Linked DNA regions of Homo sapiens. The protein of the gene in region 1 interacts with the protein of each later gene in a pairwise test. Each region holds a gene or a part of one and is shown in the gene's direction. Other genes may lie near its edges.

Evidence for each region. The genes of interacting proteins can lie anywhere in the genome.
Region 2: the proteins of TDG (region 1) and MX1 interact in a two-hybrid assay, tested with the Homo sapiens proteins (one study listed by BioGRID).
Region 3: the proteins of TDG (region 1) and SETX interact in a two-hybrid assay, tested with the Homo sapiens proteins (one study listed by BioGRID and IntAct).

Annotation. Positions count from the first base shown.
Region 1 is NC_000012.12:103,968,872-103,975,871, forward strand, and holds part of TDG (G/T mismatch-specific thymine DNA glycosylase), read left to right. Parts: intron 1-3,488; exon of another isoform or gene 3,489-4,151; coding exon of another isoform or gene 4,152-4,162; intron 4,163-7,000. UniProt on the Homo sapiens protein: DNA glycosylase that plays a key role in active DNA demethylation: specifically recognizes and binds 5-formylcytosine (5fC) and 5-carboxylcytosine (5caC) in the context of CpG sites and mediates their excision through base-excision repair (BER) to install an unmethylated cytosine.
Region 2 is NC_000021.9:41,429,230-41,436,266, forward strand, and holds part of MX1 (interferon-induced GTP-binding protein Mx1), read left to right. Parts: intron 1-1,303; 5' UTR 1,304-1,379; intron 1,380-2,801; exon of another isoform or gene 2,802-2,820; 5' UTR 2,821-2,841; coding exon 2,842-2,946; intron 2,947-6,607; coding exon 6,608-6,800; intron 6,801-7,037.
Region 3 is NC_000009.12:132,323,959-132,330,995, reverse strand, and holds part of SETX (probable helicase senataxin), read left to right. Parts: intron 1-496; coding exon 497-4,672; intron 4,673-7,037. UniProt on the Homo sapiens protein: Probable RNA/DNA helicase involved in diverse aspects of RNA metabolism and genomic integrity.

The DNA of each region.
Region 1 (7,000 bases):
TAATCCCAGCACTTTGGGAGGCCAAGGCAAGTGGATCACCTGAAGTCAGGAGTTCAAGACCAGCCTGGCCAATATGGTGAAACCCCGTCTCTACTAAAAATACAAAATTAGCTGGGCATGGTGGCATAACTAGTGACCACTACACTACAGTATCAGTTCAGAAAGAAAGCAAGACCTATACTAGACAGGCAGCATCAGAAGGATGCTGGCAGGAGGTACCTACAGTAGTCATTATTATAGCAAATTTATTATATACCAGGTACTGTTTTGGATGTTTTACATAGGCCAACTAGCTTAATGCTCCTAACCAATTATTAGGTACTATTCCCATTTTACAGATGTGGAAGCATGGGCATAAAGAGATTAAGGAACTTGCCCACAGAGCTAGTAAATGGGAGAGCTGAAATTTGAATCCAGATGACCTAGCTTCAAAGTCTGCTTCTCTAGCTAGCAAATGTGCTTTACTGCCTCTCTTAGTGAGCAAGATGGAGATGGACTGATGGCAATCCAGTTAGGTGAAATAAAAACCTGACTTACTACTGAAAGAATCAGGCAGACTGAAGAGAGGTCTGTACTTATATGCCATGTATCTCTATCCCTAACTTTGTTCCTTTCAGTACCTTAACGTCAGGGTGCTGATGGCATGGTGATAAAATTTGTGAGTGACCCAAGCCTGGGAGGAATTTGTGGAATTAACTGATTGATTTAATCAGAGTCCAGATAAATCCTGACTGACTGGAATGGTGAATCATCTTTTACAAAGAAGAGGCACAATCCTATACTCAGCTGCAGAAAAATCAGTGATAAAGTGTGGAATGAGGGAGAAGTGATACAAGGACAGTGTTCGTTGATGGGAAACTCAGTGTGAATCAACAGTATAATGTGGGTGCCAGTATAGCTAGTGTCATGGGTTCTGCAGTTTGTCTCCAAAATGAGCAAGTTGGTAGCCCTGCTCATTTTCGGGCTGATGAGGCTTTATCTGGAGTTTTGTTTGATTCCGAGCACCAAAAAATGAAGAAATTTGAAATCATACTACATGAGGAATTATACTATTTGAGGAATACTGTATGAGGACTGGCTTATTCTAAATCTTTATATTTACAGTTTCTAGTAGACTGTACATATGGTGAATACACAGACCTCCATCTAGCAATACCAAATGGAATAATAGTTATGGTGCTATCGCATCATAATTTACATAACCAGACCCCTTTAGTTGAGCATTTGGATTATTTAGCCTTGTTCATTATTTTGTAAGTATTCAGTATGGTATATGCTTTTTTTAAGTGAAGATAATAAAATGTATTTAGAAAATAGCAACTTAGGCTGGGTGCAGTGGCTCACACCTGTAATCCCAGCACTTTGGGAGGCCAAGGTGGGAGGATCACTTGAGACCAGAAGTTCAAGACTAGCCTGGGCAACATAGTGAAGCCCCATCTCTACAAAAAATTTAAAATTTAGCCAGGCATAGATGCATGTACCTGTAGTCCCAGCTGCTCAGGAGACTGAGGTGAGAGGATTGTCTGAGCCCAGGTGTGTGTGGTTACTGTGAGCTATGATAGCACCACTGCACTCCAGCCTGGGTGGCAGCCAGACCCTGTCTCTTAAAAAAGAAAAAAGCAACTTAAATCCCTAAAATAGTGTAAAATAATTGAAGATAAAAGAAGTTGGAGTCATTAATTTTAGAGAAAACCTTAAAAATTTAGTTTTTTGAAATACAGCAAATCTAGCTAGGCATGGTGGTGTGTGCCTGTAGTCCTAGCTACTCAGGAGGCTGAGGCAGGAGGATCACTTGAGCCCAGGAGTTGGAGGCTGCAGCCAACTATGATCATGCCACTGCACTCCAGCATGGGTGACAGAGTGAGACCCCATCTCTTAAAAAAAAAATAATTAAAAAAATAAAAAAATAGCAAATCTGAATTAACTGGACTTCTTAATGAACTCTATGCGTGGAGTGTGTGTATGTGTGTTTTGAGAAAGACTATCAGAAAATATAGTCGACCTTCCATATCTATGGATTCTGCATCTAAGAATTCAACCAACTGTGGATTGAAATTATTTGGGAAAAAAAAAGACAAATAACAACATTAAAAAATGATACAGATAAAAAGAATGCAGGATGACAGCTACTTACATAGCATTTACATTGTATTAGGTATTATAAATAATGTAAAGATTATCTAAAGTATATGGGAGGATCTGCATAGGTTATATACAAATACTATGCCATTTTATATCAAGCGACTTGAGCATCCTTAGATATTGGTGTCTGTGAGGGGTTCTACAACCAGTCCCCCATGTATGCAAAACTAGGTACATACCACAGTCCATTTTTAGAAAGATTGATTAGTAACTAAAGGATGACTGTACACAATTCATCAGTTCCAGGCAGCTATAAGAAAACAATCTAGCCGGACACAGTGGCTCACACCTGTAATCCCAGCACTTTGGGGAAGCTAAGGCGGGCAGATCGTGAGGTCAGGAGTTTGACACCAGCCTGACCAACATGGTGAAACCCTGTCTCTACTAAAAATACAAAAATTAGCCCGGTGTAGGTGCCTGTAATCCCAGCTACTCAGGAGGCTGAGGCAGGAGAATCACTTGAACCCAGGAGGCAGAGGTTGCAGTGAGCCGAGATCATGCCATTGCACTCCAGCCTGGGTGACAGAGCGAGACTCTGTCTCAAAAACCAAACAAACAAAAAACAACAGAAAAACAATCTATGAGCGCTGCAGTTCAACAGAAGGTAAGTGCAAATGGAGGCTAGCAGAGAAAAAGGGGTAAACAGGAAAATGAGGGAGAGTGAGAGGTAGTGAAGAATATTTGAGACTAAGATAAATGATGGGGGAAGAAAAGTGAACGAAGAGAAATAAAATCAATCGTGCTTGTAAGTTTAACATCAGGAAGTTATACAAAGTAGAAAGTCTTTGGGGTCTGTTTTGAGTCTAGACAGATCTAGTCCTATTTCCTATACATTGTCCACATATGTAGAAATCACTGAATCTAATTCCTCATTTTCATGGTGAGGGAATGGATACCCCGAGAGGATAAATGACTAAATGCTCTTTGTTACTGTCCTTCTCATAGAGTTATTGCTCAGAAACATTGCAGAGTTCTGGATTATAAAGTAGCAACGATCATTATGCATACACAAATGTATTTAAGAAATATCCTCACACTGAGGTTGAAACAGGTTTATGCTGCTTATACATTTAGTTGTTATTATAATAGAAGATAAAATTATCCAGAACCCCCCTTTTTTTTTTAGACAGAGTCTTGCTCTGTCGCCCAGGCTGGAGTACAGTGGTACGATCTTGGCTTACTGCAGCCTCCGCCTCCCTAGTTCAAGCAATTCTCCTGCCTCAGCCTTCCCTGTATTTAGGATTACAGGCGCATGCCACGACGCCTGACTAAGTTTTGTATTTTTAGTAGAGATGGGGTTTCACCATGTTGGCCAGGCCGGTCTCGAACTCCTAACCTCGTGATCCAACCCCCTCGGCCTCCCAAAGTGCTGGGATTACAGGCGTGAGCCACTGTTTCCGGCCAGTTATCCAGAACTGTTTAGTTAACTAGCATTCAAGTTTATGAAGATTTTTGTGTAGATGTAATGCTTGCTTCTGCCAAGGAATAAGAATGTTGTAATCCACCATCTTTTATTCTGGCTTTTAGGCAGCTGTTGAGGTAAACAAACTAAGTTTAATGCTCGAAGATAGTGTATTCCTCAGAACTAACACATTTGATTTTCCATAGGTTTATTTTCCTTTACCTGTTCTAATTTAACTTTTTGTAAAATGCCACAGTCCATTTTTAGAAAGATTAAGGGATATTTCATTATTATAGATAAGTTTCTAGGTTTCTTTCAAACTTGATATACCTAATATAAAAGTTCAGATTATTTTTCCTCTTTATTTTTCACTTTTTATTCAGCCAACTGTGATTTCTAGAATTTTGATTTTCAGCTTCTGAACCCCAGAATTTCTGAAGATGATTAATGACCTCCGACTATACTAAAAGTTTTGAAAAATTTTTTTAAAGTAAAGAATCCTGTTGTAATGTGAACGGTGTCTCCCTAATTTATGTATTTTCAGTTTGCATTTTCATGAAGTGCTCAAAATGGGACATGTGAAATTCTGAGAGTAGTAGTAAGAAACATGGGAGAGTGGTAGGTAGATTGCCTTCCTGACCATGTGACAGAGTAAAAACACGTTTCATACATTTTTTTTTTTTTTTGAGACGGAGTTTCGCTCTTGTTGTCCAGGCTGGAGTGCAATGGCATCATCTCGGCTCACCACAACCTCCACCTCCTGGGTTCAAGCGATTCTCCTACCTCAGCATCCTGAACTAGCTGGGATTACAGGCATGCGCCACCACACCCAGCTAATTTTGTGTTTTTAGTAGAGACAGGGTTTCTGCATGTTGGTCGGGCTGGTCTTGAACTCCTGACCTCAGGTGATCCGCCCGCCTTGACCTCCCAAAGCGCCGAGATTACAGGCGTGAGCCACTGCACCCAGCCACATCTCATGCATTCTTTTGCTCGCTCATTTATTGTCACCATATGCCTTTGTTTCTATATATTCAAGCTAAATCAAGGTGCTATTAGAATCTCGGGAAGCTGCCGCTGACCACAGTCAGAACTTGCAGTTTCTTTAGTTAGAATTGCCATAGGACCACTGCTCAAGACTTCCAGATCTAACCTAGCCATATCCAACTCATCATTAGAATATTTAAATCATGAATGTTGAACAACCAATATTTTAACAATTTATTGCATAGAGCTACTAATAATATTAAATAAAACTATGGAAAAAAAGGACATTTTACTTTGTGCCAGGTATGCTTCTAAGCATAGTTCTACATCTTAACTTCTAGTCCCTGTCTACATATTTTCCCTTATGTGTAGCCTTAGTTATACTATTTTGTATTCTTTTCTGTTTTAAAATATATATAAACTCTTTCCTGTTCTTTTACATAAGATAAATAAACTTAATTTTTTAGCTGCATAGTATTTTCTCATGTTAATGTATTGTAGTTTACTAAGTCATAACTTTATTTTTATTTAATTTGTGAACAATAAAAGAAATAAAACTCTTATGATACAGGTTAATCTCTTTCTCACTCATTCTTAATCTTTGCTTTACCAACCTACCCTTAAAGATAGCTGGAAGTGGAAATGCCTCTCCAGTGGTTTGTCCATTGGGATTGGGCTTCTGTTTATCTTGAGCTGCCAACATTTAGCCCAGCCGCTGGGGGTGGTCTGTTATCCTTTGTTTCCCCAGGCCATTTAAGCTTATCCAGGAAATGCTTTAGTTTGCCTTTTTTTTTTCCTGTTAACCATTTTATTGAGATATGATTTACATACTACATAGTTCATCCATTTAAAGTGTACTCATTTGCCCTCTTTTGTTGTTGTTGTTGTTGTTATTGAGGCAGAGTCTCGTTCTGTCCCCCAGGCTGGGGTGCAGCAGTGTGATCATCGCTCACTGTAACCTTGAACTCCTAGACTCAGGCAATCCTCCTGCCTCACCCTCCTGAGCAGCTGGGGCTGTCAGCATGTACCACCATGCCCAGCTAATGTTTTAAAATTTTTTTGTGGAGGTGGCGATCTTGCTATATTGCCCCGGCCACTCTTGAATTCCTGGCCTCAAGTGATCCTCCCGCCTTGCCCTCCCAAAGCACTAGGATTACAGACATAAGCCACCGTGCCTGGCCTCATTTCCCTTTTTAATCTGCTTTCTGAGCTTCCTGTTCTCTTTCAATGAATATCATAGAGAATGAAAACTGATTAGTATAGTATCTTGCAGTAGAAAACATGACTTTCGCTGGGCGCGGTGGCTCATGCCTATAATCCCAGCACTTTGGGAGGCTGAGGCGGGTGGATCGCGAGGTCAGGAGATTGAGACCATCCTGGCTAACACGGTGAAACCCTGTCTCTACTAAAAATATAAAAAAAAATTAGCTGGGTGTGGTGGTGGGGGCGCCTGTAGTCCCAGCTACTCGGGAGGCTGAGGCAGGAGAATGGCGTGAACCCGGGAGGCGGAGCTTGCAGTGAGCCAAGATCGCGCCACCACACTCCAGCCTGGGCGACAGGGCGAGACTCCGTCTCAAAAAAAAAAAAAAAAAAAGAAAAAGAAAAAGAAAACATGACTTTCCTCTCCAAATAGTAAAGCAAACTTTTCCATTTTATTTTCTACTGTTTTTCTTCTCCTGCCTATTTAATGGCATTATTTGGCATTTGCTGTAACTTGAGTTTCATCAAATATGTGTTTACTTCTCTGGTTTTATGCTAACAGCAACACCATGAGATAGTGGTTTAAGGCCATGAGAAGTATTTTTTTTAATTGTTTTCTTTGAAAGCCCACATTGTTTCCTTTGAACAGAATACTTTGAACAAAATTTAAATCGTGTTCAGAAGAGAGGTTTAGAGGTTTTTTCCTTCATAAATTCAACACATGTTTACAAAATATCCATTTCATGTTTCTCTTTAGTGACTGAATCTATTTTGTGTTGCTGTTTCAGAATGCCATAGACTGGGCAATTAATAAACAGTAGAGGTTTTTTTGGCTCCTACTTCTGGAGCCTGGGAAGTCCAAGATGGAGGGGCTACATCTGATGAGGGGCTTCTTGCTGCGTCATAAAATGGCAGAAGGAATCACACAGTGAGGCAGCACTTGTGACAGAGAGATAGGAAAGGGAGTTGAACTCATCCACTCATCGTGTTATCAGGAACCCTCTCCTGTGATAATAGCATTAACCCACTCCTGAAGGCAGAGCCCTCCTCTTGACCTAATCACCATTTTTTTTTTCTTTTGAGACAGAATCTTGCTCTGTCACCCAGGCTGGAGTGCAGTGGTACAATCTCAGCTCACTTAAACCTCCACCTTCCAGGCTCAAACAGTTCTCCTGCCTCAGCCTCCCAAGTATCTGGGACTTCAGGTGCATGCCACTGTGCCCGGCTAATTTTTATATTTTTAGTAGAGGCGGGGTTTTGCCATGTTGGTCA
Region 2 (7,037 bases), on another chromosome or scaffold:
GCCCTGCCCCTGAAATCCAAACTGATGTTCCGAATGATCAGGGAAAGGTACAAACGTTTATGGTTTACAGACAAAACCCATAAGGTTTAGCTTTCAGAGAATCTCATTTTATGAAGCAAATTAGGGAAGGGAATCTACTCACCAAGTCCTGTTTCAGCTGATTGAGTGGAACCTGTGGTCATGTGGTACAAGTCCTGGTCTCAATGATGCTCCTTATCTGGCTGCAGAAAGGCCAACTGAGGCAACCATAGCCCAGAAGACTGGTACTCCTGAGAGGCAGATGAAGTGGTGGTCTTTGATATCGAGCCTGGGATGCCCTGGGCACATGAGGTATTTCCAAAGGCATGGGAGTTTTAGGGAATAAATTCCCAGATTGTCAGACTCCATAAGTACCGTTTACAATGGATTACCTTTTATAACCATCCCAATCCTACCTGACAAAAGAGGTGGGCAGATTACGAGGTCAGGAAATTGAGACCATCCTGGCTAACACTGTGAGACCCCATCTCTACTAAATAAATACAAAAAATTAGCCGGGTCTGGTGGCGTGCACCTGTAGTCCCAGCTACTTGGGAGCCTGAGGCAGGATAATCGCTTGAACCCGGGAGGTGGAGGTTGCAGTGAGCCAAGATTGCGCCACTGCTCTCCAGCCTGGTGACAAAGCGAGACTGTCTCAAAAAAAAAAAAAAAAAGAAAGAAATACATCCCTTTCTTCCCTTCCAAATCGAGCAAGGATGCCTGCCCTGGAAGTGTATAAACCCGGGGAAGGGAGACAGAAAAGGATAGTTTTAAGTATTGGTGTTGGGGACGTGTTCTTTAGCCAAGGCAGCATGAACCCATGGCAGCACTTCCCAACCTTCCTGACATGGGCGTTTCTGTGAACTCCAGTGTGATGGAGAAATGGCATTGGCTCAGGTGTGCAGCTAGATATGTTACAGAGCAGGGTGACAGGCAGGGGTGATGAGTTTTGTTTTAACAACCTGTCCCTTCAACCCTCATGGTACTGACAAAGATCACATGGCTCTCGGGGGAGATTCCTGCGAGGGGAAGCAAGGAGAGCATCCTTACATATTATTGATCCAGGCAGCAGATTTGCAGCAAAGCTCTGTGCTTTATTCATCTGTTAAAATAGTTAAAATAGTCAAAACATAGGAAAAGGATTCTGGGAAGTCAGAATCGGCTTCAGAGCACACCCCTCCTGCACTTGCCCGGTTCTCAGACTTGGGAATGGGACTGGGTGGGTGGGTACTCTCGGGTGTTCCGCGGGTTTGGGTCTTACTTGTACACTTTGCTTGATTTCAAGGAGGTGCAGGAGAACAGCTCTGTGATACCATTTAACTTGTTGACATTACTTTTATTTGAAGGAACGTATATTAGAGGTAAGTTGGTGCATGCTATTTTCTGTAACATTTATTTTGAGTCATAGGAGAAAGATTTTCAGTTACTTTTATCCAAGATTATTAGACACTGTAAAATTTCATATTTAGGCACTTGTCCTACAACATTTTAAAAATGAATTTCAAATACATACGTGTGTATTTGTAATGCAGACAAGTATAAGGCAGTCAGTTACATGCTTTCAAGAGTAAAATGAATGACATTTCATTTCCCCCATTTGTGGGAGTAAAAGAATGACAATATGAAATTGATGATCAAAAGAAAGAGCATAAAAGATTTAGAGCTCACGTGTTTTTTAAACTAAAGGTTTGGGTATCAAATTACCGTAATATTTGGATTCTCTTGGCTACATTGGAAACAGTTCTATAACAATTTTATTTTTAAATGTAAAGTTTTTGTTTGTTGTTGTTTTTAAGACGGGGTCTCGCTCTGTCGCCCAGGCTGGAGTGCAGTGGTGCGATCTCGGCTCACTGCAACCTTCACCTCCCAGGTTCAAGTGATTCTCCTGCCTCAGCCTCCCAAGTAGCTGGGACTACAAACACACACCACCACTTCCAGCTAATTTTTGTATATTTAGTAGAGATGGGGTTTCACTATGTTGGCCAAGCTCGCTTCGAACTCCTGACCTCAGGTGATCCACTCACCTTGGTCTCCCAAAGTGCTGGGTGGGATACAGGCGTGAGCTACTGTGCCCAGCCTTTAAATGTAAACTTTTTAATTGTATTACAACTGCATCAGAAGTTGTATACTTTGCAACTATTCAAATTTATACTGAAAACGTTTTTGAAGTTCAACCTAAAATTATGACAGGAGATAGTTTTAGAAAATATTTTGGGGAACAGAGGCATATTCTATTTTTTTTTTTTGAGACAGAGTCTTGCTCTGTTGCCCAGACTGGGGTGCAGTGGCGTGATCTCAGCTGACTGCATCCTCTGCCTGCCAGGTTCAAGCAATTCTTTGCCTCAGCCTCCTGAGTAGTTGGGATTACAGGTGCCCGCCACCATGCCTGGCTAATTTTTTTGTATTTTTAGTAGAGACAAGTTTTACCATCTTGGCCAGGGTGGTATTGAACTCCTGACCTCATGATCTACCTGCCTCAGCCTCCCAAAGTGCTGAGATTACAGGCGTGAGCCCCGGGGCCCGGCCTGGAGGGATATTCTTGAAGCGCCTTGAGCAGGGAGGCAGCGTTTGTCTTTATCTGACCTTGGCTTCTTTGGGTCACTCTGTTTCTCTTTCCGTGAATAAAAAGCCAGTGAGCACACACTGTGTCCCAGGCACTCTTCTACGCTCTGGGGACATCACCATGAACAACTAGTCAGAGTCCCCACCTCCAGGGGCCTTCCGTTCTGGTGGTGGGTTTGGTTCCATGGTTGAATGCACCCAGCTGCTTATCTGTTCAATAGGCATCTGCTTTATTTTAAGCTTACTTTGCAAAGAAGGAAGATGGTTGTTTCCGAAGTGGACATCGCAAAAGCTGATCCAGCTGCTGCATCCCACCCTCTATTACTGAATGGAGATGCTACTGTGGCCCAGAAAAATCCAGGCTCGGTAAGTTGCTCTCTGAAAGTCGCTATCCATGTGACATGAGCCATGCCCATTCGAGGCTGCCCTTTTCTACAGCGGTGCTACTGCTGCCCAGATATGCCTGCTCTCTCGCCTCTCCTGTGCCAGGACGCAGATCCTGACCCTCTACTTGCCAGCTGACAACCATGTATAGACTCGTTGCCTTAGCTCACCGTGGGTGGAGGTGCTGCTGGGGTTGGGGACACTGGCTGAGCTGTCGATGGGTTCAGCTCATCTATACTAGAAGGAACTGGCCCAGGCCCTGGGTTCAAGGAGCACTAGGTTTGTTTTTCCTGCCCACATCATGATTCAGTCTCAAGCTACAAACCCTGGGGCATCATTAAGATATTATCTTTGTAGGGAAGCCACGTGGTGAATTTTTTGCCCAGAATCAAGACATATTTTTGGTGGGAACCAATCATGGCCCCTGGAATCAGTCCAACCTCAGTTGGTCCCGACGCTGACACTCTCAGCTGTGTGATTGTGGGTAGTTATTCCTCCTGTTATAAGCCTGGTTTTCCATATCTAAAATGAGAATAATGGTCTTTGCTTTATATGGCTGAGAGCAAAGTGCAGGGAGTGTCCAGGTACTCAGAGTGCTCAGTTTCTTATTACCGTGGATCACTGGTCTGTTTCAGGCTGGCTCTGTTTTCCTAGGCAATGTTAAACAATTTTTCAAACAATATTCAAAAAACATTGAAGCGTTTAGAAAAATACAGAGGACCACCACCTTTCCACCACCCTGATACCACCGTTTACATTTTTCTGCATTTCCGTCCCTGGTGCGTCTCTTGTCTGGCTGTAAGAGATGTAATTATGTCAGGGTATGGGGCAGGAGGAACTCTCACCCACTCATACTTGCGTGCTTTGGAAGCAGCTTGGCCTTTTCCAGTCAAGGAGAACAGAGTGTGTCTCGTGATCTGGCAGTTCCACTTCTGGGGATAGACTGTGGTTCTCAAAGTGTGGCCCCCAGCCCAGCCCATTAGCATCACCTGGGAAGTTGACTGAAATGCAAATGACCAGCCCCTCCTCCCACTCTTAGACCTGGTGAATTGGACACTCTGGGGCAGGGCCCACCCCCTGTGCTTTACCAGGCTCTCCAGGTGATTCTGCTGTGTGCTGGAGTTTGAGGACCATGTGTAAACCCTTGCACATCCCCCTGGGAGCCACATGCATAGCAGCACTGTTTATAACAGCAAAACTCAGACCCTGTCTACGTGCCTGTCATGGTGGAATGGATACTGGGAGTGTGGTATGTTCATGTAGCAGAATTCTATACAGTAGTAAAGAGGAATGAACTAGAGTTCCAGGTATCAAAATGGCTGCATCAAATGAACAACGTTGAACCAAAGAATCAAGTTACAGGAAATATACAAAATGATTCCACTTACGTAAAATTCCCCAACAGGCAGCAATAGGCAATATACCATTGTGGGAAAAACATATAGGTGGCAAAACTATAAAGAAAAGCAAGGATGTGATGATTGCAAGCCTCAGGATAGAGGGACCCTCTGGAGGTGAAGGAGTTGACCCAGGGAGGTGTGTGCAATGTCCTAAGTACTGGGAGTGTTTGTGTTCTTAACCCAAGTGGTTGGTACATGCATATTTGCTTTATTATGTTTGACACACTTTTGTAAATAGATAGTATAAATAAATGAAAACAAACAAAAAGTTATAAGGTGAACTAAGACCGAGGCTACCAACTGTATTCATGCATTTGGTAAGGCTGTGGTTCTTTCTCAGTCAGGGCCCATTTTGCTCCCTGGAACTTGTGGCCAGGTCTAGAGACATCTTGGTTGTCACAACTCAGGGTGAATAGTGAATAGAGGCCAGGTATTTGGCTAAACCTCCTACAATGTGTAGGGTAGCCCCTGCAACAAACAATCTTCTAACCCCAAATATGAATAGCTTCTTGTCCTGTTATAAAGAAGCTATTCTAGTAAAAACGTCTGTCTATGATGAAGCATGCACAAAAATAGTCATTAGAAAGAGGTAAAAGACAAAATGATTTTCTCATATTTTCTTCCTGAACCTCAATCAGCCCACTTTAGGAAAATTGCACCCAGCTGCTGGTAGGTAGGCAGGACCGAGTGTGAAGTCTGCTGCTTTCTCTGTTTTTATGCAAGTACTTCACTATTTTGATTACTTTAGTTTTATAGTAATTATGGAAATTAGGTAATGCTAGTCCTCTGACTTTGTTCTTCTTTTTCAAAGTCATTTTGACTAAGAATATTTAGATCATTTCTATTTAATGTGACTGGTAATATAATTAGATTTGAGAATATCATCTTGCTATTTGTTTTCTATTTGTCCCGTCTGTTCTTCGTTCCCCCTTTCGTCTTTTTCTGCCTTCTCTTGGATTATTTTTTATGATTCCATCATGTCTCCTTTGTTGTCTTATTAAGTATAACTCTTGGTGTTTTTAGTATATATCTTTAACTTAATAAGTCAACCTTCAAGTGATAGTCTGTCACTTCATGTATAGTGCGAGAACCTTAGAATAGTGTATTTCCATCTCTCTGCTCTGAGCCTTCATACTATTTCTATCATGCATCTTTTACATACATCATAAACCCCACAATACATTGTTATTATTGATGTTCAAACATTCAATTATCTTTTAAATAAAGATAGCAAAGGAATACAAAAAAGTGTAGTAGTTACCCCTTCTAGTATAGACTCCTTTGTATAGATCCAGATTTCCATTCAGTATCATTTTCCTTCTACCTAAAGAACTTCTTTAACATTTCCTGTAGTGCAGGTCTGCTGGTAATGAATTAGTTAAGCTTTTGAATGGCTAAAAAAGTCTTTGTTTTGCCTTCATTTTTAAAAGTTATTTTTGCTGGGTATAGAATTCTAGATTGATGGTGTTTTTCAGTACTTTAAAAATACTGCTTCACTGTCTTCTCGCTTGTTATTGCTTCTGATAAGATTGACAGCAGATTTCTCATTTGTGTCCCTCTGCTCACACTGTATCATTCTCTGGCTGCTCCTAACATTTTCTCTTTATTACTGGTTTTGAGCAATTTGACCCTCTTATGGCTTGATGATGTTTATGTTTGCTGTGCTTAATGTCTGTTGAGTTTCTGGGATCTTTGGGTTTATGGTTTTCATTAAGTTTGAGGGAATTGTATGTATTATTTCTTCAAATATTTTTTTCTGTCTCTCTTCCATTCTCTTTTGGGGATTCCAGTAACCTGTGTATTAGACTTATTGAAGTTGGCCGTCTTTAATGGAGTGTATTGGTTCATTCTCACACTGCTATAAAGAACTGCCTGAAACTAGGTAATTTATAAAGAAAAGAGGTTTAATTGACTCACAGTCCACATGGCTGGGGAGGCCTCAGGAAACTTACAATCATGGAGGAAGGCATCTCTTCACAAGGTGGCAGGAGAGAGAATGACTGAAGGAGGAACTTGCCAAACACTTATAAAACCATCAGACCTCATGAAAACTCACTATCATGAGAACAGCATGGGGGAAACCTCCCCCACAATCCAATTACCTCCACCTGGTCTCTCCCTTGACACGTAGGGATTATGGGGATTACAATTCGAGATGAGATTTGGGTAGGGACACAGAACCAAACCATATCATGAGCATGATTTGCAGGCCATGAAGAATTCTCCATTTTTGTTTCCTCCAGGTGGCTGAGAACAACCTGTGCAGCCAGTATGAGGAGAAGGTGCGCCCCTGCATCGACCTCATTGACTCCCTGCGGGCTCTAGGTGTGGAGCAGGACCTGGCCCTGCCAGCCATCGCCGTCATCGGGGACCAGAGCTCGGGCAAGAGCTCCGTGTTGGAGGCACTGTCAGGAGTTGCCCTTCCCAGAGGCAGCGGTAAGAACTTACATTCTGTGTTAGTCTGCTCAGGCTGCCATAACAAAATACCACAGACAGGGTGGCTTATACAACAAAAGTTTATTTTCTCACAGTTCTGGAGACTGGAAGTCCAAAATCAGGGTTTAGCTTCTCCTGAGGCCTTTCTCCATGGCTTGCAGATGGCCACCTCCTCACCGCTCCCCCATGCGGCCTTCCTTCCACACACAAGCATCTCTGCTGTCTCTTCCCCTTCTT
Region 3 (7,037 bases), on another chromosome or scaffold:
TATTTTGTATAATTTGTTGAGTTGCAGATTTTGTGATATGTAGCTGTTCTCAATCTACTGCTATGTAAAAGCCCTTCTCATTGAACAGCAGATGTATTGTGTGTTGGGGAAGATGGACTCTAACTACAGTATGCATACTTTGGAAAATTAACTTATAAGTACATTTAGGGAAGATGGAAAGTTTATGGGGACATACATGGCATGACTAGAAATCAAAACTAGCTAGTGGACAGAAGGTGAGAGTACATAAAGGTGTTACCAATTTGTCTTTTTATGAAAACTCAAAATTCAATTTATATTTTCACTTTCTTGGGAGTTAGGTGTATTACGATTGTGATATAATTATATGCCACAATTATACCATTGTATAGCATAATAATGATGTGGTAAACCAAAATAAGAGAGTTGAGAAACGTATTTTTCTTAACGACTTGGGTGTTGAACCTGTCATAAGTGGTGCTTATTTATCTGAACATCAGCATTTCTTTCATTTTAGGATTCTGGATGGAGAACAGCCATTTGCCCAGATTATTGTCCTAACATGTATGAAGAAATGGAAACATTAGCCAGTGTACTTCAGTCAGATATTGGTCAAGACATGCGTGTTCATAACAGCACATTTCTATGGTTCATCCCTTTTGTCCAGTCCCTCATGGATCTTAAGGATTTGGGTGTGGCTTACATAGCACAGGTTGTTAATCATCTGTACTCTGAAGTCAAAGAAGTCCTCAACCAAACAGATGCTGTGTGTGACAAAGTCACTGAATTTTTTCTTCTAATTTTGGTATCAGTGATTGAACTGCATAGAAATAAAAAATGTTTGCATTTGCTGTGGGTAAGTTCCCAGCAATGGGTGGAAGCCGTCGTCAAATGTGCCAAGCTTCCTACCACTGCGTTTACACGGAGTTCTGAGAAATCATCTGGAAATTGCTCCAAAGGAACAGCAATGATATCTTCACTGTCATTGCATTCCATGCCATCTAACTCTGTACAACTTGCTTATGTGCAGCTGATTAGAAGTCTCCTTAAAGAAGGTTATCAGCTTGGGCAGCAGTCTCTTTGCAAGCGATTCTGGGATAAGCTCAACTTATTCCTTAGAGGAAATTTATCTCTAGGTTGGCAGTTGACTAGTCAGGAAACCCATGAGCTACAAAGTTGCTTAAAGCAAATTATTAGAAACATAAAATTCAAAGCACCTCCATGTAACACTTTTGTGGATCTGACTTCTGCATGTAAAATCTCTCCTGCATCTTATAATAAAGAAGAAAGTGAACAAATGGGGAAGACGTCTAGAAAAGATATGCATTGTTTGGAAGCTTCCAGCCCAACATTTTCTAAAGAACCAATGAAAGTGCAAGACAGTGTATTGATCAAAGCAGATAACACTATAGAAGGTGACAATAATGAGCAAAATTATATAAAGGATGTGAAACTAGAGGACCATCTCTTAGCTGGGTCATGCTTAAAGCAGAGTAGTAAAAACATTTTTACTGAAAGAGCTGAAGATCAAATTAAAATAAGTACAAGGAAGCAGAAGTCTGTAAAAGAGATCTCTTCATATACACCAAAGGACTGTACTTCAAGAAATGGTCCAGAAAGGGGATGTGACAGAGGAATAATAGTATCAACACGTTTGTTGACTGATTCTAGCACTGATGCTTTGGAAAAAGTGTCCACATCGAATGAAGATTTCTCTTTAAAGGATGATGCTCTTGCTAAAACCTCAAAACGAAAAACTAAGGTACAGAAAGATGAAATCTGTGCAAAGTTATCACATGTAATAAAGAAGCAACACAGGAAGAGTACTTTGGTCGATAATACTATCAATTTAGATGAAAATTTGACTGTATCTAACATTGAGAGTTTCTATTCAAGGAAAGATACAGGAGTTCAGAAAGGAGATGGTTTCATACACAATCTTTCTTTAGACCCTAGTGGTGTTCTGGATGATAAGAATGGAGAACAAAAATCTCAAAACAATGTATTGCCAAAAGAGAAACAATTAAAGAATGAAGAATTAGTTATTTTCTCTTTCCATGAAAACAATTGTAAAATACAGGAATTTCATGTTGATGGTAAAGAATTGATCCCTTTTACAGAAATGACCAATGCTTCAGAGAAGAAATCATCTCCCTTTAAAGATCTTATGACTGTACCTGAATCAAGAGATGAGGAGATGAGTAATAGTACCAGTGTGATTTATTCTAACTTGACAAGAGAACAGGCCCCTGACATCAGTCCTAAATCTGACACCTTAACGGATTCTCAGATAGACAGAGACCTTCACAAATTATCTTTACTAGCTCAAGCCAGTGTTATTACGTTCCCATCCGATTCACCTCAGAACTCATCGCAGCTGCAAAGGAAAGTAAAAGAAGATAAAAGATGTTTCACAGCTAACCAAAATAATGTTGGAGATACCTCCCGTGGACAGGTTATTATTATTTCAGATTCTGATGATGATGATGATGAAAGAATCCTGAGTCTTGAGAAACTCACTAAACAGGACAAAATATGCCTTGAGAGGGAACATCCAGAGCAGCACGTTTCAACAGTTAATAGTAAGGAGGAAAAGAATCCAGTAAAGGAAGAAAAGACAGAGACTCTTTTTCAGTTTGAGGAATCTGATTCTCAGTGTTTTGAGTTTGAAAGTTCATCTGAAGTGTTTTCAGTTTGGCAAGATCATCCAGACGATAATAATTCAGTTCAAGATGGTGAGAAAAAATGTTTGGCTCCTATAGCCAATACTACAAATGGTCAGGGTTGTACAGATTATGTATCTGAAGTTGTTAAAAAAGGAGCAGAGGGCATTGAAGAACACACAAGACCACGGAGTATTTCTGTTGAAGAATTTTGTGAAATTGAAGTAAAAAAGCCTAAGAGAAAACGATCTGAAAAACCAATGGCTGAAGATCCTGTGAGGCCTTCATCTTCTGTCAGAAATGAGGGCCAGTCTGATACTAATAAGAGAGATCTTGTGGGAAATGATTTTAAAAGTATTGATAGAAGGACTTCAACTCCCAATTCACGTATTCAGAGAGCCACTACGGTTTCACAAAAGAAGTCTTCAAAGCTTTGTACTTGTACAGAACCCATCAGGAAAGTTCCAGTTTCTAAGACCCCTAAGAAAACTCATTCAGATGCCAAAAAAGGACAGAATAGAAGTTCAAATTACCTAAGTTGTAGAACAACTCCTGCTATAGTGCCGCCAAAGAAATTTCGTCAGTGTCCTGAGCCAACTTCAACAGCTGAGAAACTTGGCCTGAAAAAGGGTCCTCGTAAGGCATATGAGTTGTCCCAGCGGTCTTTGGATTATGTAGCTCAATTACGTGATCATGGCAAAACTGTTGGAGTAGTTGATACCCGAAAAAAGACTAAATTAATTTCTCCTCAGAACCTGTCTGTCAGAAATAATAAGAAACTTCTGACTAGTCAAGAACTTCAGATGCAAAGGCAGATCAGACCCAAATCACAAAAAAATAGACGAAGACTTTCTGATTGTGAAAGTACAGATGTTAAAAGAGCAGGGTCACATACAGCACAGAATTCTGACATATTTGTACCAGAATCTGATAGGTCAGATTATAATTGTACAGGAGGAACTGAGGTACTTGCCAACAGTAACAGAAAACAGTTAATAAAATGCATGCCTTCTGAACCAGAAACCATAAAAGCAAAACATGGGTCTCCAGCAACTGATGATGCTTGCCCTTTGAACCAGTGTGATTCTGTAGTGTTAAATGGAACAGTACCAACAAATGAAGTAATTGTCTCCACTTCAGAAGACCCTCTGGGTGGAGGTGATCCAACAGCACGTCATATAGAGATGGCAGCTTTGAAAGAAGGAGAGCCTGACTCCAGCAGTGATGCAGAGGAAGATAACTTATTTTTAACCCAAAATGATCCTGAAGATATGGATTTATGTTCACAAATGGAGAATGACAATTATAAACTCATTGAACTAATTCATGGAAAAGATACAGTTGAGGTTGAAGAAGATTCTGTAAGTCGGCCTCAGTTGGAATCTTTGAGTGGCACAAAGTGTAAGTACAAAGATTGTCTTGAAACCACAAAAAACCAGGGTGAATACTGCCCAAAACACTCTGAAGTGAAAGCAGCAGATGAAGATGTATTTCGTAAACCTGGCTTGCCTCCTCCTGCATCTAAACCTTTGAGACCTACCACTAAGATTTTTAGCTCAAAGAGTACTTCACGAATTGCTGGTCTTTCTAAATCTTTGGAAACTTCTTCAGCACTTTCACCGTCTCTAAAAAATAAGTCAAAGGGGATACAGTCGATTTTGAAAGTACCACAGCCAGTTCCCCTCATAGCTCAGAAGCCAGTTGGTGAAATGAAGAATTCGTGCAATGTTCTTCATCCTCAGTCTCCGAATAATTCCAACAGGCAAGGTTGCAAAGTTCCATTTGGTGAAAGCAAATATTTTCCATCTTCCTCTCCAGTAAACATTCTTTTGTCATCACAGTCTGTCTCTGACACCTTCGTTAAAGAGGTCTTAAAATGGAAATATGAAATGTTTTTGAACTTTGGTCAGTGTGGGCCCCCTGCAAGTCTTTGTCAGTCCATCTCAAGACCTGTGCCTGTCAGATTTCACAATTATGGAGATTATTTTAATGTTTTTTTCCCTTTGATGGTATTGAATACTTTTGAAACAGTAAGTATGTGTTTCATTTGTATGCCTCTCCAAACTTTTCAAGTTACCTCTTTACCTTGCTGAGTGAAAATGAGAGTATAGTTCAAAAAATCAGCCAGGCGTGGTTGCGGGCACCTGTAATCCCAGCTACTCGGGAGGCTGAGGCAGAGAATTGCTTAAACCCAGGAGGCGGAGGTTGCAGTGAGCCGAGGTCGCGCCACTGCACTCCAACCTGGGCGGCAGAGTGAGACTCTGTCTCAAAAGAAAAAACAAAAAAAAGTATAGTTAAATTAAAATTGACCGTTTCGATTTAGATACTGGTTTTAGATTTCATGTTGAACAGACATTTGTGCCAGCCACTGTTTTAGATACTGGCAATACAGAGGAAACACTTTTTTTTTTTTTTTTTTTTAGGTGGAGTTTTGCTCTTGCTGCCCAGGCTGGAGTGCAATGGTGCGATCTTTGCTCACTGCAACCTTCTGCCTCCCAGGTTCAAGTGATTCTCCTGCCTCAGCCTCCCAAGTAGCTGAGATTACAGGCCTGCGCCACCAGGCCTCACTAATTTTGTATTTTTAGTAGAGAAGGGGTTTCACCATGTTGGTCAGGCTGGTCTTGAACTTCTGATTCTGACCTCAGGTGATCCACCAGCCTCGGCCTCCCAAAGTGCTGGGATTACGGGCATGAGCCACTGTGCCTGGCTGGAAACTCTGCTCCTTGGAGCTGATAGACACAACTCAGGGTGCTAATATACCAAGTGCAGAGGTAACACAGAAGGAAATGTTTATTGACGCACGGGTAAAGGAAGACTTCTCAGAGGAGATAGTTTCCCATGTGCATTTGTTTTGTTTTTAAGTAAGAGACCTCTGCTGTAGTTTTCTTGAGGAGGTGGCAAAGGGTGAATTACATTGAACACAAAGTAATGAATCCTAAATTTCCCTACACGTCAGACTTCCCAGTTTCTTTCTTTCTTTTTTCTTTTTTCTTTTTTTTGAGACGAGTCTCGCTCTGTCGCCCAGGCTGGAGTGCAGTGGTGCAATCTCGGCTCACTGCAAGCTCTGCCTCCCGGGTTCAGGCTGTTCTCCTGCCTCAGCCTCCCGAGTAGCTGAGACTATAGGCTCTCGCCACCACGGCCGGCTAATTTTTTGTATTTTTAGTAGAGATGGGGTTTCACCATGTTAGCCAGGATGGTCTCAATCTCCTGACCTTGTGATCTGCCCGCCTTGGCCTCCCAAAGTGCTGGGATTACAGGCGTGAGCCACTGCGTCTGGCCGCCAGTTTCTTACTCATCACAGCAGCTGCTCTGTGTAACAGCCTCCCCAACCCCAGCACATCCTATTCTGGTTCTTCTCTCCTCCTTACTCAAGTAGAGTTGACAAACGATAAGATTCCCGTTAAAATTTGAGAAAAACATCAAATAATTCTTTAGTGTAAGCATTCAACTGCGTTTAGAAGGATTTTTGTGTGTGTGTTTTCAAGGCAGGTAAGAAGTGGGAGCAAATTTTTAGTTAATCCTCAAAAGAAACTTTCGTGTATACAGTAATACTCTTAAAACCAACAATGTTGAGGTAAATAGTCATGGTTCATTAGCTTGATAGATATTTGAGTGCCTAGTATGTGCCAAGTGCTCTTACAAGCATGGGAGATAAAGTGGTGAACAAGACAGGTGTGAGGTCTCTGCTCTCTGGAAGTGACCATTTGGGATTGAGATAAGGACTCTAGTATGATCTAGAACAAAGGGGACAGGGCACTTTCTGGAGAGATCAGATAACCTCTATGAGCAGATGATATTTACACTGAGACCCAAGTGACTAGGAGTTAACTGTGGGAAGTATGTTACAGGCAGAGTGGAGTGCAAAGACAGTCTGGTAACAAGATTGGAGTGTTGGGGAAGGAAGTGTAATGTACAAAGGGACAAGTCTACTACAAAAGAAGAGAAGTGAGTTGTTAACACTGTACATGGCAAGATAAATGGCTTTTATAAAGCTTGAGTGAACGTATCTTCATCAATGTACTTTATGTTAAATCTTTTGATCAATTCGTACCTCAAATTTTAGCCATTTTTGAGAGTTGCTTTATTATTTTTTTTTCCTAAGGTACTTTTGTTTTAGCAGGAGTTGCTTTATTTTCGCTGGAAAGCACTAAATTGCTTAGAAGCCATTCATAACCCTATGAAGGGTAGACACTTACTTTCATTTCCTGAGTTAAAAGATATTTATTAAGATTTATTTCCTTCAGGACATTTTTGTAGTCTCAGCTTTTTAAAAACAGAATGAGCACAAGTTCCATTTGTACATATACAGAGTTTAAAATAGTCAAAGATTTCTATCTGGCCCATTATAAAGAACATCAGGCACCCCTCATCCCCTCAAGTAACTATTTTCTATTC